Homo sapiens: one gene and its partners. The protein of the gene in region 4 interacts with the protein of the main gene of each other region in a pairwise test. Each region holds a gene or a part of one and is shown on either strand. Other genes may lie near its edges. The genes, in order: LZTFL1, UBE2U, HUNK and TRIM68.

Region 1 (3,568 bases), on a different chromosome or scaffold from region 4:
GTCTTGGGCCTTTATAAAATCCTATGAAAAATAAATGCATGCATGTAATTTCATGTTGATATTCTAAAAATAACTGTTTTAGAATGGTGATTCAACATCATAGGAGATGAAAAAAATGATGTATGTTTTGTGTGCATGCCAGCCTCCCTTGCCAGCCTAGGTAAGTGCCAGCCCCTTCAGAGTCACCAGCAGGCCAGTCCATTGTCAGCCCTGGGTACGTGGTGTCTTGCACACAGCCGACACTCAGTAGCCACTGAATTCCAAATACATAAAATATGATTTGTGAACTGCTGGTATTTCCATCCAAGATGTGTGTACCAGGGTTGAGATGGCAAACAGGTTTCATTTTGAAAAGCCAAATTTAAAAAAATCCTCAAAGAAGTTTGAATTCTTCAAAATGATAGAAAAAATGATAAAAGTAATATAATTTATACCAAAAACTTAATAGACATATGTTTTAGTCATTATTTACAAGGAAATAATATGAGAGCACAATTACTGATTACATGGTTTTCTAAATTTTTAAGATTTTAAGTTTTTTATATTCATGAGATATGTGTAATTTTTGCATACTTTGACAACTATAGCATAAGACAGGCACTGGATCTTCTCTCTTCCTGGATCTTGTTTTTGACTGGATAAGATTCATGACAGAAAAAACATTTGTACTGATAAGACAGTAAAATGGTCTACAATTGGTTAATATGTAGATGAAGAAATACTTAGTACTTTCAAGTGGCTCTCACGCCTGTAATTCCAATACTTTAGGAGGCCAAGGGAGGAGGACTACTTGAGCCCAGGAAATTGAGACCAGCCTGGGCAACAGAGCAAGACCCCGTCTCTACAAAAAATATAAAAAATTAGCCAGGCATGGTGGCACATGCCTGTGGTCCCAACCACTTGGGAGGCTGAGGTGGGAGGATCGCTTGAGCCGGTGAGGTCAAGGTTGTAGTGAGCCATGGTTGCACCACCGCACTCCAGCATGGGAAACAGAATAAGGCCCTGTCTCAAAAGAAAAAAAAAAAAAAAAAAAAAAAGTACTTTCAACAGAAGAAAAAAAAAATCTTTCCTCATTTTTGAAATCTGGTCTTTGAAAAAAAGATTTTCATTGCAACTAATAAAAGCACGTATTCACTGGTTGTTCTTGTGTCCAAAATCTTAAAGTAAAATTGGAGCAAAGCCCCAAAAAGCTTTTAAACAAATTCATCAGCCACATGTGTTTGCAATTGTTTGACTTAGGAGAAATTATAAAGCGGTTCTGGAACATTCGTGTTTTTATAAATCTATTGTCATTGGCATATAATGGTTGAAAATCATTAGCTATATAAGAAGTATCCTCCTATTTTAAAAATATCTACAGATAAAATGGTTCAACGTCTGAGATTTGCTTCAAAAAAACATGGCTGGTGGGAAGAAGAAAGTAGAGGTACAAATGAAACCAGACTGGCCATGCATTGGTAACTGCTAAATAGAGTGAAGAGTGCATGGGGGTTCATTATACTATTCTCTCTACTTTTGTGTATGTTTGAAATTTTTCATAGAGAAAAGATTAGCAAAAGCCCAGTGAAGCAGATTTTGGGTTTGTTTACCAGACATTTGCAATGAGAGTATGACCACTAGAAAAGCCAATGCTGTACTGAATATCTACCCAAATGGTCCTGCTCACAGGAAATCATACTGCAGCATGCACACTCAACAGAAAGTCCACAGGAGACAGACTGTACATACAATGACTTCCCGCAGGCGGAGTGACATTCAGTCATTACATTCAGACAAGCATGAAGAACTACAACACTGGATTTCATTGTACTCTATGGTGCCGGCGGGTACAGACGCATCTGCAGATTCATAATCATTTTGTCACACTCATCAAAGGCAAACTTAAGTAATGTTCAGTATAATAAAACCCAAATATAAACCAATTAAAAACTTTTCTTTTCATTTTCTTTCCCCTCCACTGTAATTGGATGTCAAAGTGAGAGGGGAAACTTAAAAAAAAAAAGTGAGAATATCTTGCATACCAGGAAGATTGTAGAAAAACTTAAAAAATAAATGTGAGAATATCTTGCATGCCAGGGAAACTGCAGGTGTGTGAGCTATGTACTGTCCCCTCTGCCCTAGAGGATGGACAGAGGGAAGGTCACTGGTTCTCACCAGGCCTTTTGGGGGCAAGAATGTCCCAACACATGACAATAGAGGCATTTGTCTCAGGGAGTAGCAGGGGTGGGGTACAGTGAGCAGTAACTAAGACTTAATTTTAAGTTTATAACTTCATTCTACTTAGAAAATGTGAGAAAGGTAGCTAAAACTTGTTTCACCTTTTGATTTCCTTGATCAAGCTGTAAATCTTGCAGTGCTTTTTCTAGTTTTGACTTTTCATCCAGTGCATTTGTAGCCTATAGTGAAGTTTAAACAAAACACTTTCAGTATTTAATCTGTAGGCAGTTCAATAATTGTGTCAAAACATTTCTCAGTTACCTGTATTTCAATGGTCTTCAACCTTGACTTCAATTTCTCATTCTCTTCTTGAAGTCTTAAAATTTCCTTTGTGAGTAAATTCAAATTTTATTATATTAACCAAAATATTTTAATATTTGAAATTATTACTTGTTTCACTTAAAAATCTAATTTTTAAATTTAAATTACATAATAGCTCAAAAATGTACTACTGATATTTTGGTAATATCCCAATTTCATCCAGCCTATCAGCCTCAGTATCTGTGAGTCAGCTTTGGATCTAAGACATCTAGTTTCTTTTCTTTCAGTTTCTCAGACACATCTTCCCTCTTTCAGTCCTCTGTTTTCTGTTTTCAAATTTTTTTCCAAAGACCCGCTTCCCTGCCAACTTTCTCCTAGCTGGTCCTGCAAATCCTGGGTCTATTCTCAGCCTACACTGCACACTGTTGCCCCTTATCCTGAGAACTCCTTCACTTCAGTACCATGCTCAAGCCCACAGATGCTTCTGACTGAGGTGAGGCCAAACACTTTTGTTCTTATACAGCTCAAACATTTGAATCATCTGTGTTATTTTTCAGTAGACTCAAATAAACACATCAGCCCAGTCAGAGGGCACTGCACTCTGTTTCAAGTCATGCCGCCTCCTGTCTGACCACTGCCTGTTCTGTTCTCCTGCCCAACACACTCACTTCTCTTTCCTCTACAATTTAACTGGTCTTCATCCTTCAAGGCCCAGCTTAGGTACCCCTTTACCCAAGAGCCTGTTCTCACCTACTGTTATCCACACACAACTGAGTCTTCTCTGCTACCCAGTATGACACCTGTAGCACACAGGAGAATATTCTCTGGTCTCTATTTCTAGAACATCAGTTCTACTTTCCCAATAAAACTATTACATTTTTGGCCGGGCACGGTGGCTCACACCTGTAATCCCAGCACTTTGGAAGGCCGAGGCGGGCGTATCACAAGATCAGGAGATCAAGACCAACCTGGCTAACATGGTGAAACCCCATCTCTACTAAAAATACAAAAAATTAGCCGGGCGTGGTGGCAGGCGCTACTCGGAGGCTGAGGCAGGAGAATGGCGTGAACCCGGGAGGTGGAGCTTGGA
Region 2 (4,101 bases), on a different chromosome or scaffold from region 4:
CTCATGTTCCCAAAATCTGCTACACCCTTTCTTGTCTACAAGTCTTTGCTGTGCTGTTTACTCTGCCCGAATTTCCTTATCCTTCTTCTGAACCTGGCAGATTCTTCAGGACTCAACTCAAATGTGATCTCCTTGGGAAGACATTCCTGACTCCCTCAGGCATAATTAACTAATCCTCTTCCTCTTTAGCATTCTGTTCAAAATCCATAATAATGTATATTTTATTGTAATTATCAGCTGATGTGTTTGTCTCCCCTACCTCACTCAAGGAATCTATCTTATTAATCCATAATTGAAAGAAAACATGAGCATTAAAGTTTATAGTGGCTTAGTGTTCTTGAGATTTTTTGATTTATGAAAATTTGGGGGAAAATCATAAAGGAAAAAATGAGAAGTAACTGTGGGGTTTTGAAGCCAATAGGAATTTTGATAGTTATTCCCTGATCTCACGGAAGGCAGACGATATTCTCTCAATTGATATGCTCTATTGTGTCTGCTTCTTAAAAATGTAATAAAATTAAGATTTGGCATAAAGAAAAATACCCCAAATTTCCATCTATGTTGACACATGGCAAAAAAGTCATAAATAAAAAAAATGGGAATATTTTTAGAATTTTAGACAACTGGTATAATGCAAACTTATGCATATGAAGAAGAATTTCAGGAAATTTATATAATGCGACCTTATCCTACATAAAAAGAGGATGGGCTAATAATGGTATAAAGACTTTTTTAAAAAATAGATTGGTTTTGAAAATACAAACCCTGCCAAACTGAATTCTGTAGACCTTCAATTTCAACTTCCCATTCCATCATATCTTCACTTACAGGCTTAGCAGTGATACCCTTGAAGTTAAAAACAAAATTAAATCAGAAAAAACTTATTAAGTATTTATTGAAGTTTTGAAAATCATATACCAGGTCACACTGAATTCTAAAAACTCTAAATTTTCTTTCCTTGATAAGTTTATTTATTTGCTGCTCTGGGGAAGTGTTACATGTCTTATTTCACGGAAGTTAATATAGATCCCAGAAAACATATGCAATAGTAATTAAAAATAAATCATAAGTGTGGAAATCACAAGTGGGACTAGAGAGTCAAGATTAGAATGTGTGGCTTATATACTGTTTGTGTAAATCAATAACCAATTTAATATTCAAATTTTAAAAGAAAGAAATAGTTGGAAAGTGCATGTTTCTTCAAAACATTTTAGAGCTATATGAATGCTATATGAAAGGCATGAAGTGGGAACATTTTCATTAAGAAAAAATCCAAAATTACACTTGTATATAAAAGCAAAGTTTTCCTATACTTGAGGAGTTGTTCCAATGGAGGGACAAGAATGTATTTCATAGAAAACCTTATGAATTACGTTAAGTAACACACTTACAAACACATAAAAACACTTCTGAGCATCCACATAGTTATTAAGTATGTTAGTGCTTGTCTGGGTGAGCCCTGTCTCTCTATTATCTATATTTACATATTCCTTCATTGGATTCTCTTTCAACAGAGAACTACAGAGCTCAGGATGAGCAGAAACAATATCAAATGTTAGGTCCATGCCCCAGGAATGTTCGCTGTTGGACTCCATAATTGTTCCTAACATCTCCAGTGAATGCAGTACTTTTATAGCAGAGGTAAAAAATGAACAATGCCACTGAACTACACCTGAAGCAACTGTGGGAAGCACTCTATACCTTTCATGGACAGCTTTCTTTCTGTTCTTTCTCTTAAGCACTCCCTCTTCGCCCCCTCTTCCATTTTTCATTTTCCGTAAATCAGCCTGTGGCAGCCATGGACATTGATAACCTCATTGGTGGCGTTTAAGCCCAAGGACATTGCTTCTTTTGTGTTAAAACTATAAAGGGAAGGCATTTATGTGTCATGCTGGTAAAAGTACACTAGACAGTAAGCAGTGGAACACAGGAATTAAGAACTAGGGCTTTGAAGTCCAAAAACCCTGTAATGGAATCATGGGGCAAAATCTTTACAGAATATTTCTGAGGCTTAGGTTTTTGGTAAGTAAAATGAAATACTACTTATTGTATAGTATTATAATTAATGAGCATAAGCCTGCACCTACTAGTCACTAACTACATGACAGACCCTGATATTCAGTGCCTAGATCCACATAAATTACTCTGCATAATATGTTCAATATTGTTAAGCATTATTATTTTGAAGTAATAATAATTGTTATTAATATGAAACACATTACTTCAGTGAAATGGATTTATTAAATAACAATACTGTAGTGGCAAATCAGGTTTAACTAAATTACTACTTATAGAATAAAATGGGTTAAACTGCCTCTTAAAAATTATTGCACAATGAAACACATCTCTCCACGTGCCCAGTACTTACCTTATAATTGTTCTCCTTGAGATCACAGAAGTCTCTGTGCAGCAAGAGGTAAGCTCTGCCGTGCATGATAGGCAGCGGAGGGTCTGACACTTGTCCCCAAATGCCTCAGGTTTACTCTGAGGCAGATGTTTGAAGTTATGGGTCACTTTCCCACACTTAGTAAACTGATATAAGTTACTTGCTTTCTAGAACCTCAGAACGGTACCAAGATAAGCGGCTTCTAAAGTTGGGATATAACAATGACTTTTTCTCCTGACTCCTCTAAACGAGAACTTCCCGAAGGAAGACTTGGGCACTTCCTCATCTGCGGCGTTTCACTGCAGTGCCGGCTCACAGCCCAGTCTCAAGACAAACTTGGATGAGTAACGGAGACAAGCCCATGTCGTCGGCGCGTGAGTGGGAGTGAGAGGTGTACGCCTATCAGGGTCCTAGCAGGTTGTCTTCGCTTCACAGGTGCAACCCCGCAGCCACGCACCGGAGGAAGCAAATCGGTTGCCAACCAACAGGCCCCCGTGGGGCCGCCGAGAGACGGAGGCAGGGGGTTGGCCGCTCTCACCCAATCAGCGACAGGGGGCAGGCCTCTTGCTATCTCCACAGCCAATCCTACAACAGTTTCCCCTTTGAAAGGCCAATGAGATTCGTGGTCAAGGCAACACCACGCCTTCTCAGGCCACGAACATGGACTGTACAAAACTAGTGTAGAGGATGGGGTGAGGTCCCAGGACCCAGCATGTAAGTCACAGAAGCCGTCCCACGAAGTCTTTCTTCGAAATTATCCTTCCTTTTTCTTTGACTATCAAAAGATATAGTAAGTGACTGGTAGGTACAGGTCTGCATAACAATATCTTAACTTACATGGCGAGTTACCATTCACAGTAGTGTGCATGCTATTATGTCATCAAACCCTACAATCACCCTGGGAAAGTGCTCCAGGAACAGGGAACTGCTTAAAATTTCTCTGATTCCCATCTCTTCCCGCACAGTTTCGCACCTGCTGTTCCTTCTACCTAGGAGTTTACCACATTCCTTCCACCCCTTCAGCCCTCATTTCCCCTTCACTCACTCATCCTTCAGATTTTAACGACTCTTTAAGGGATCCTTTCTTTTGTGATCCCACAGGACCTTCTATTTGCCTCCTAGTTAACATTTGCCATACGGCATCACAATTGTCTATTGTCTTCACCAGAGTGGGAACTACTGAAAGACACGGTTCCATTGCCAGCGCCAACTACAAAGCCTGGCATCTTTGTTCAGAATACTTTCTTTTTTTACTTTTTACTTACTAATTTTATAGAATCCGGATGTTCATTTAGTCCATTCATTTTACAAATATTTATTAAATACTTTTTTTTTACTTGAAAGATTCAAATGAAGTAAATGTCTTTATGGCTCCAATATACAATAAACAAGTATGCAAAACAAAAATCATGATTTCAGATGGTGATAAACGTTATGTGGACAATAATAAAACAGTACCATGATAGAGATTGGGGTAGGTCATTAAGGATTAGAAATGGTAGTCAGGAAATGCCTCTGTAAGGAATGGGGTTTTGAACTCATACATGAAAGATGAGAAGGAGCCTGCTACATGAAATATTGAGGGCAGAGAGTTCTAGGAAGAGGAAAACAAGATATTTTTGAGTCAGGAAAGAGCTTGTCTTGAAAAGGGAACAAGGGAAGGTCAGGGAGGTTGTGGAGGAGCCTGGGAGGGGTGTGATAAAGATGGGCACTAT
Region 3 (3,568 bases), on a different chromosome or scaffold from region 4:
GGGTGGATTCAGAGCTCAGCCAGCGCTTGGGTTCTGGAGCTCTGTGCTGGGCCCACTGGGAACCCCGACATGCAGGGAATTCTTGCCCAAATAGGATTCACATGAAGAGACTCGCTGCTTCCCCAGGTGCCCACTCCCCTTCCCTCCCATCTTATGTTTCTTAAATGATGAATCTCACTTCATTGTTGCAATGACAGGAGATGTTAATTGGATGTAAAATTATTCCCCTGGACCCATTGGTGGACTGCGGGTAAGGATGGTGGTTCTTTGGGTGGAGAAGGAGGCAGGGGAGAGATGTCTGTGTTGAAAAACTTGGTTTTCCCGGGATGCTCCTCCCCAGCGGGGAGAATCAGTGCTCCAGGGATTGCGGGCATTGGGAGAAATCTGGATTTTAGTTCACTCAATTGCTGGCTTTAAAGAAACAATGGTGTCATTCATAACATTTATCTCCCAAATCCAGCACCTTTAATGCTTAACTAATAGATTTGGGTTTTAGCAGATTGTGGGGATTAAAATGGTTGTGTGTGTATGCTTGACTCTGAGAAAGATTGCTAAATTAAAATGAGTCCTCATTCCCACTCTAGTTTTGGGTATTGCCTAACTAAGGCCAAAACAAAGATGACCACAGCCTCAGGCTATTTACAACCTGAAGTTCTTTTAAAAGGTGAGCTACTAAGATGATTTTGGCCTGGGGAAAGTTTCCTCCAGTGAGCAGAGCTGAGGAAAAGGAGGTCATTAAGCCTCCAGTGTCCCCCACTGTGGGTGACCCAGGGAGGCCTCTCTCCCTCATTAATTCCTCTTTTCTTGGGGTGTGTACATTTTGGATTTAGAATTTCACTTTTCTCCTGTCCTATCTATTTATTTTTTAAATTTTTTATAAAGACAGGGGTCTCACTGTGTTGCTCAGGCTGGTCTCCAACTCCTGGCCTCAAGTGATCCTCCCACCTTGGCCTCCCAAAGTGCTACAATTACAGATGTGAGCCACTGCACCTGGCCCATCCTTTTATAAAGGATCCATTCCACATTAGGAGGGGAATGAAGTCATTAATACTGTAGTGAGAAGTACTCCCAGCCCACGTGGAGCGAAAGGATTCAGGGCAGCTTGTCTTGGGAAATCAGTCCATGAAAAAGCTGAAAGAGGGCATAGGGAAACAGAAGTTGAGAGGGCACCCCAAGTTTGGCCTGCTTCATAGCTGCATTCTCAAACTGTGAGAATTAGTTTTGGGTGATTTGTGCTAAAATCTAGGGCATTGCTAGTTGAAGGCATTTGGTATGGGGGTGTGTGTGTGTGTGTAGCGTGTTGTGTTTCGACTTGGTTACACTTCCAAAAAGCTTTGGGTGAAATCCTTCATGGTTTGCTGGGAATCACTGTCTGAGTCCAGATGACAAAGGGAGCCAGTTTTTCCCAACTTTCCTTTTAGGTTTCAATTTGATCTCATCAAGAGGCTGCTTTTGCCACCACTGCCTGTAGGACAATCTTTTGCCTGCTTTTCCTCTGAAGTTGTTTGTTTAGAAGCCATTTGAATCTAGATGGCTCTTTTACTGCTTGTAAAGGAAAGATGGCTTGCGGCTGAGACCTAATTGTGTCCTCCTTTGAGTTAATGCAATCTCTGTTAATCTGGCTTTAAAAATAAATAGTTCACTTGGCCATGTGAAACTCTTAATAGGTACCTTCACAGTCAGGGCTGAGTGTCTTTGACCAAAGTTGATGATTAGACCAGGGAAAATGATCACAAAACCAGATTCTGAAAAGTACCACTCTCTGGCTTTGAGACGAAGAGCAAAGCTGTTGAGCAACAGTATGGGGTAATGACTTTGAAACACCTGGAGTGGTTGTGCTTGCAGAGCCTGGTATTGATTTGTGATACCTATGAGAGGCGTGGTCTCTGGCACATAACAAGTGCCCCCCGCCCTGGCCCCCAACCAGACAGAGTGACTTGGGGGCTGCTGCATGATCAGATAATATCATCTGTCGACAGAATAAGGAAAGTGACTTACAGAAAATTGAAGTGAGGTCCAGAAACAGGACAGACGTGGTGGCTCATGCCTGTAATCCCAGCACTTTGGGAGGCCAAGGTGGGTGGATCACTTGAGGTCAGGAGTTCTAGATCAGCCTGGCCAACATGGTGAAACCCTGTCTCTAATAAAAATGCAAAAATTAGCCAGGTGTGGTGGTGCATACCTGTAATCCCAGCTACTTTGGAGGCTGCAGCAGGAGAATCGCTTGAATGTGGGAGGTGGAGGTTGCAGTGAGCCTAGATTGTGCCACTGCACTCCAGCCTGGGTGACAGAATGAGACTCCATCTCAAAAAAAAAAAAAAAAAAAAGAGTTTAAGATTTTAAATTTCCATAAACGTTAAACTTTAAATGAAGCAACTTAGAAACCACGTATAATGTTTCTAATACAGACATTATAAATAATGTTTGTAAGGAATCAGTAAAACAATGGTCCTTTATCATCAGCAATATATTTGGATAATTCCTTAGAAGTTTGGTTTAGTGGCTGGACGCGGTGGCTCATGCCTGTAATCCCAGCACTTTGGGAGGCCGAAGTGGGTGGATCATTTGAGGTCAGGAGTTTGAGACCAGCCTGGCCAACATGGAGAAACCCCATCTCTACTAAAAACACAAAAATTAGCTGGGTGTGGTGGTGCACACCTGTAGTCCCAGCTACTTGGGTGGCTGACACATGAGAATTGCTTGAACCCTGGTGATGGTTCGTGATACCTACAAGAGGCATGGTCTCTGGCACATGACAGGTTATTGTGTTTTGTAAAAAATTGATAAAAGTTGAAAAAATATAGTTGGAAAAGCTGAATCGAGAAAAGAGTAGGTGTATCTCAGGTATTGAGCCAGTGTTGTAGGCAGGCAAACTACAGAACAAGAACAGACAGTCCATGCCACTGTTACCTTTTTTGTGATTGAGTCTCACTGAGATACAAAGTTGAGTACATAAAATGATTGGTTAAGATGTTGAAATATCTTGTTCTAACCCTTGGTTAAAGAATAATAAGCCGGCTTGTCACTTCCATCAGAACTATTTTTAGGCTAAGAGTAAGGGTTGCCTGCTTACTAAGTTGCCAGTAATCATGCTTAGAGCATGACAGTGCCAGATACCTGGAGTGAAGGAGTTACTAAAAATACGATTTACTATGTTTTGCAGAGCAAGAAATATGACTAATTTTAGAGGTGGCCTTTTGGCAGATCTGTTTTTAGCAAGTATTTCTGAAACAAACAGGTGCTAAATCCTGTATTTTTGAAGTGCTAGAAGTTTAGGGGTAATCGCTCTGAGGAACAAGAAATGCTTAGAGAACTGGAAATTCCTATTAATCCTTGGCAGGGACTTCTTGGCAAGAAGGAGGCATTTGCAAAGCACCTGCTTGGTGAGCCCTGTGTGACAAGGCAGTGCCTGTAATTTCGAGGATTGCATTCTGCAGTTGCAGGCGGATTCTTTTGAACTTCCTGCCCTGCCTCATCTTTTTGAAGTACTTGTGAATGATGGAAATTGGCACGTAGGGCCTGGTTCCTAGTGTTCATTGATACAGGTCCCACGGACTTCAAAGGGTGC
Region 4 (3,568 bases):
CTGAATATCCTGGAAGGAGAAAAAAAAATGCAGCATCTGAGTAAGTGCTATTCCTCAGAGGGAACAGACATCGAACTGGCAGGGAGTTTCTCTAGGGGAAGGGAGACAGATACCAAGAATGGAGAGATGCCATGCAGAGGTAAGGAGAAGCCTATGGAAGGATGGAAGAGCAGGCTGAGCTTTGGCTGAACTGGCCAATTTCAGGCTCCATCTCAAGACTCTCGGGCTAGAGGAGAGGGCCTGGAATGACGCCAGAGCTGCCTGAGCACTGCCCCACCTATGATGCTACAACAGACCAGGTCATCCACCAGCCAGGGATAGGGAAACAGCAGGTATTAGCTGGGGAAACACAGGATCCATGACCAGCTGGCAGAGGGCTGGCAGTCCCTACTGAAGGGTAACTGATGCTCTCTCCTGGAGTCTCAGTCTATCTTCAGCTGTCACTCAGGGTTACCAGGAAAACCTACTACTCACCTGCAACATCCAGCGGACAGGCCTCTGCGACCTCTCTTTCAACTCTGCAATCATCCTCCACAGGACCTGGCTCTGCTGGATGAGCTCGCTATGGTTCAACTCCAGTTTCTGCATGGTCTCCGCTGCCTCCCGCTGTAGGCTGGCCAGAGCTGCTGCTACCTCTGCCCCCAGCTGCCGATGTGGTGGCTGCTTTTTCTCTAGTAATCGCTGGTATTTTTCAAACTCCCATACAATACTCTGTTTTCGGGTTTCCACCTGTATCTGTGGAGCCAAGATGGAAATCAGCACTGATACTTTCAGTCACCCAGTATCGAGCATACTGACATATGCATACACACATACTCTGCAATGGTACCAACCACGTGACAGGCTATGCAGGGGCAAAGATAAAGGATACTATTTTTCCTAGCTTCCTGTTCTCCCAGCTCCACCACATGCTTCTAGGTCTCTATTGTCACTCTTATTGACTCCAGTAGGGTCCAGGATATTATCTTAATACTACATGCTCTAGACTATTTTCCATTTTCAGAATAATGACAAGATGTGTTACATTTAAGTCTCTAAGGCAGTGTAACTTAACTACACTGTTAGGTGGTTCATTTTCATGTTGATATTATATCTGTTCAACATGCTGTTTTAGATTGGTTCAGTGTTACTTTCTGTTGATCAAAAGTTCTAGTAGTTTGATACTTACTGGCCTCAAATTTATTTCAGAGGTGATTTTACAATATTTTAATAACCAGACTCTTAGCAAATATTCTCTAACTTGGGAAAATGAAAGAGAAACTCTGCTTTACAAGCATGATATAAGCCATGCCACTGTGAGCTGACACACGTGAGCATGTGCTTTTCCTTTCTCATATAGGAGGATACAAGACCAGAGGTTATCCCTACATCCCCATGGAGAAACTGGAATTAAGAGGTGACGTGGCCTACCTAAGGCCTGGGACAGAGAAAGCAGGGATTAGAACCCTAGGCTCTGTGATTTCAAGCCTCACATTCTGCCTCACAGTGATGAGAATGCTACCCTAGGCCAGCTCCAGGACCACACAGGACGACTGACACAAACTCCTTTCCCCACGAGGCAACCTGCCTTCCAGGTGGCAGTTCGTTTCCTTTCACCAACTTCAAGCTTCCAGGCCTCTTCTTGCTCTTTCTTCAGATGTTCGAGGGCCTCATGAAGTTCCCACTGCAAGAGACAAAACCCTCATGAGGCCACCTCCGGCAGCCTAGGCTTCCTAGCACTGGGAGGCTATGGGAGAACCAGAGTCCTTCAGGCAACCGGCCACAGTGAAGGCTGTGGGGAAAGGGAATGCCACAGAGGAAGCAGACTCTGCCCAGATGACATCCGAGGTAGCTCTCTGGGCTGAGAATCATTTCAACTCCCACAGTCTCTAAATGTCTGTAAACTGGAAGAAAAGGTCCATTTACAACCTCTCCACAAAAGTACCTTGGACTTTCCTTTCCATGCCAATTTTTATCCTTATCTTATTTATTTTTATCTTACTGTCTGCCAGAACCTTGTTACTCCAAATGTGGTTCAAGTGGATCAGCAGCATCCACATCACCTAGGAGCTTGTTAGAAATGCAGAATCTTGGCCTTACTTTAGACCTACCAAATGAGAATCTCAATTTTAGATGGATCTCCCAGGTGGTTCATATGCTTATTAAGGGTAAGAAGCACTTTCCTAGAATAGTAATGCAAGGGATTTCTACTGAAAAGCATAAACTGTGCAGAAACACCATTTAATTCTGCTATTTTAACAAAATAGCAACTATTTTGTTAAAATATATCAAGTGTCAGGTATATTTTCAGCTCTAAATATGCATGTGATACTTACAATCCTCTGAGGCTGGTATTAACCTTATTTTATAGACAAGAAAACTGAGGCTTAGAGGGTGACCTACCCAAAGTCATTCAGGTAATAAATGGTTGGGCTGGGATTTCATCCAGCCCTTTACCCCTATGTTATACTAGCTCCCTTTTCTAATAGTCTCAAAAACAGAATGAGTTAGTAAATACTTTTCATATTTTAGAAATCCCTCCCATATAGGAAAAAAGCTAATTCAGGGGATTTGTCTTACACTCTCACCTTCCTATTTCAACTCCAAAAAAGAGAGTTGAGACCAATGCTGGATCACTGGATCACAGAATCACTGAGATAATGGTTCCGATAAAGATGTCATTATGGGCATCTGATGAAAGAGTAAAGAGAAGCCCAGAAGCTGGAAGTTGATGAGGTTAGCTACAAAAAAGGAGTCCCAGGTTTGTCAGAGATGACTTGTCAAACAAACAAACTTGGGAGAGGAGAAAGTGCAAGAAGACTTGAGTCACAGCCTCTGATCTTCCTTTCACTAACTGGACCTGAAGTCAGAAAGGACCTGAGAAGACTATATCAGATGACCTCTCTCAATCTTGTGACTCACCCATAGTTCTTTCCACCTCTAAAATAAATTGCCATGTTTTCAACTTTCTAAGCCTCACTTTTGTCTATAAAATGAAGGAGGGAAGTGATCCATTCAATGCCAAATGACTACTTGCAGCACTGCTAGGAGGAGTTTGCAGGTCAGGTGTAGCCTTGACCATCTATATAAGAGCCTCATGCCTAAACTCATCCAAGGCATCCAGAATCTCAGTTAAAACCCAAACTGTTTTCCTTCACATTCTCATTACTGAAATCAGCCTTGGGTTAGGAATTGAGCCCTGTTAGGATGTAGGTGTAGAGGAAGTGGGAGAGCAGGAAATCAAGGAAGGTCATGAATACAAGGAAAGGTATAGCTCTCTGTATCAGATTCCAGGGATCTCTGGGTGTCAGGAACCAAAGGAGTTAGCTCTCAGTCTGTGGTGCTGGTGGTCAAGCCCTTGATCTAGAAACAGCCAACTTGGGGCCGGGGTTAGACTGGAGTGGCCAGCTTCCATCTCTCACCTTGTACTCCCAGGCAACATCCTCCATTGGCACAACACTGTGGGCCTCATGCTCTGGGGACTGGCTGCAGGCCTCACACATTATCAAGACATCCTCTTTGCAGAACATCTTCAGCTTTTCCCCATGGCGCTCACACAGGTCACCCTTCAGCCCCATTCCTGGATGTA

What was found.
Region 1: the proteins of TRIM68 (region 4) and LZTFL1 interact in binary tests that used the Homo sapiens proteins (3 or more experiments, as listed by UniProt).
Region 2: the proteins of TRIM68 (region 4) and UBE2U interact in a two-hybrid assay, tested with the Homo sapiens proteins (one large-scale study listed by BioGRID and IntAct).
Region 3: the proteins of TRIM68 (region 4) and HUNK interact in a two-hybrid assay, tested with the Homo sapiens proteins (one large-scale study listed by BioGRID and IntAct).

The regions. Positions count from the first base shown.
Region 1 is NC_000003.12:45,828,595-45,832,162, forward strand, and holds part of LZTFL1 (leucine zipper transcription factor-like protein 1), read right to left. Parts: intron 2,545-3,568; coding exon 2,479-2,544; intron 2,397-2,478; coding exon 2,319-2,396; intron 22-2,318; coding exon 1-21. UniProt on the Homo sapiens protein: Regulates ciliary localization of the BBSome complex. Together with the BBSome complex, controls SMO ciliary trafficking and contributes to the sonic hedgehog (SHH) pathway regulation. May play a role in neurite outgrowth. May have tumor suppressor function.
Region 2 is NC_000001.11:64,202,384-64,206,484, reverse strand, and holds the start of UBE2U (ubiquitin-conjugating enzyme E2 U), read right to left. Parts: upstream 2,863-4,101; 5' UTR 2,435-2,862; coding exon 2,369-2,434; intron 1,945-2,368; exon of another isoform or gene 1,702-1,944; intron 847-1,701; coding exon 765-846; intron 1-764. UniProt on the Homo sapiens protein: Catalyzes the covalent attachment of ubiquitin to other proteins.
Region 3 is NC_000021.9:31,875,952-31,879,519, forward strand, and holds part of HUNK (hormonally up-regulated neu tumor-associated kinase), read left to right. Parts: intron 1-3,568.
Region 4 is NC_000011.10:4,601,678-4,605,245, forward strand, and holds part of TRIM68 (E3 ubiquitin-protein ligase TRIM68), read right to left. Parts: coding exon 3,402-3,568; intron 1,664-3,401; coding exon 1,568-1,663; intron 736-1,567; coding exon 475-735; intron 10-474; coding exon 1-9. UniProt on the Homo sapiens protein: Functions as a ubiquitin E3 ligase. Acts as a coactivator of androgen receptor (AR) depending on its ubiquitin ligase activity.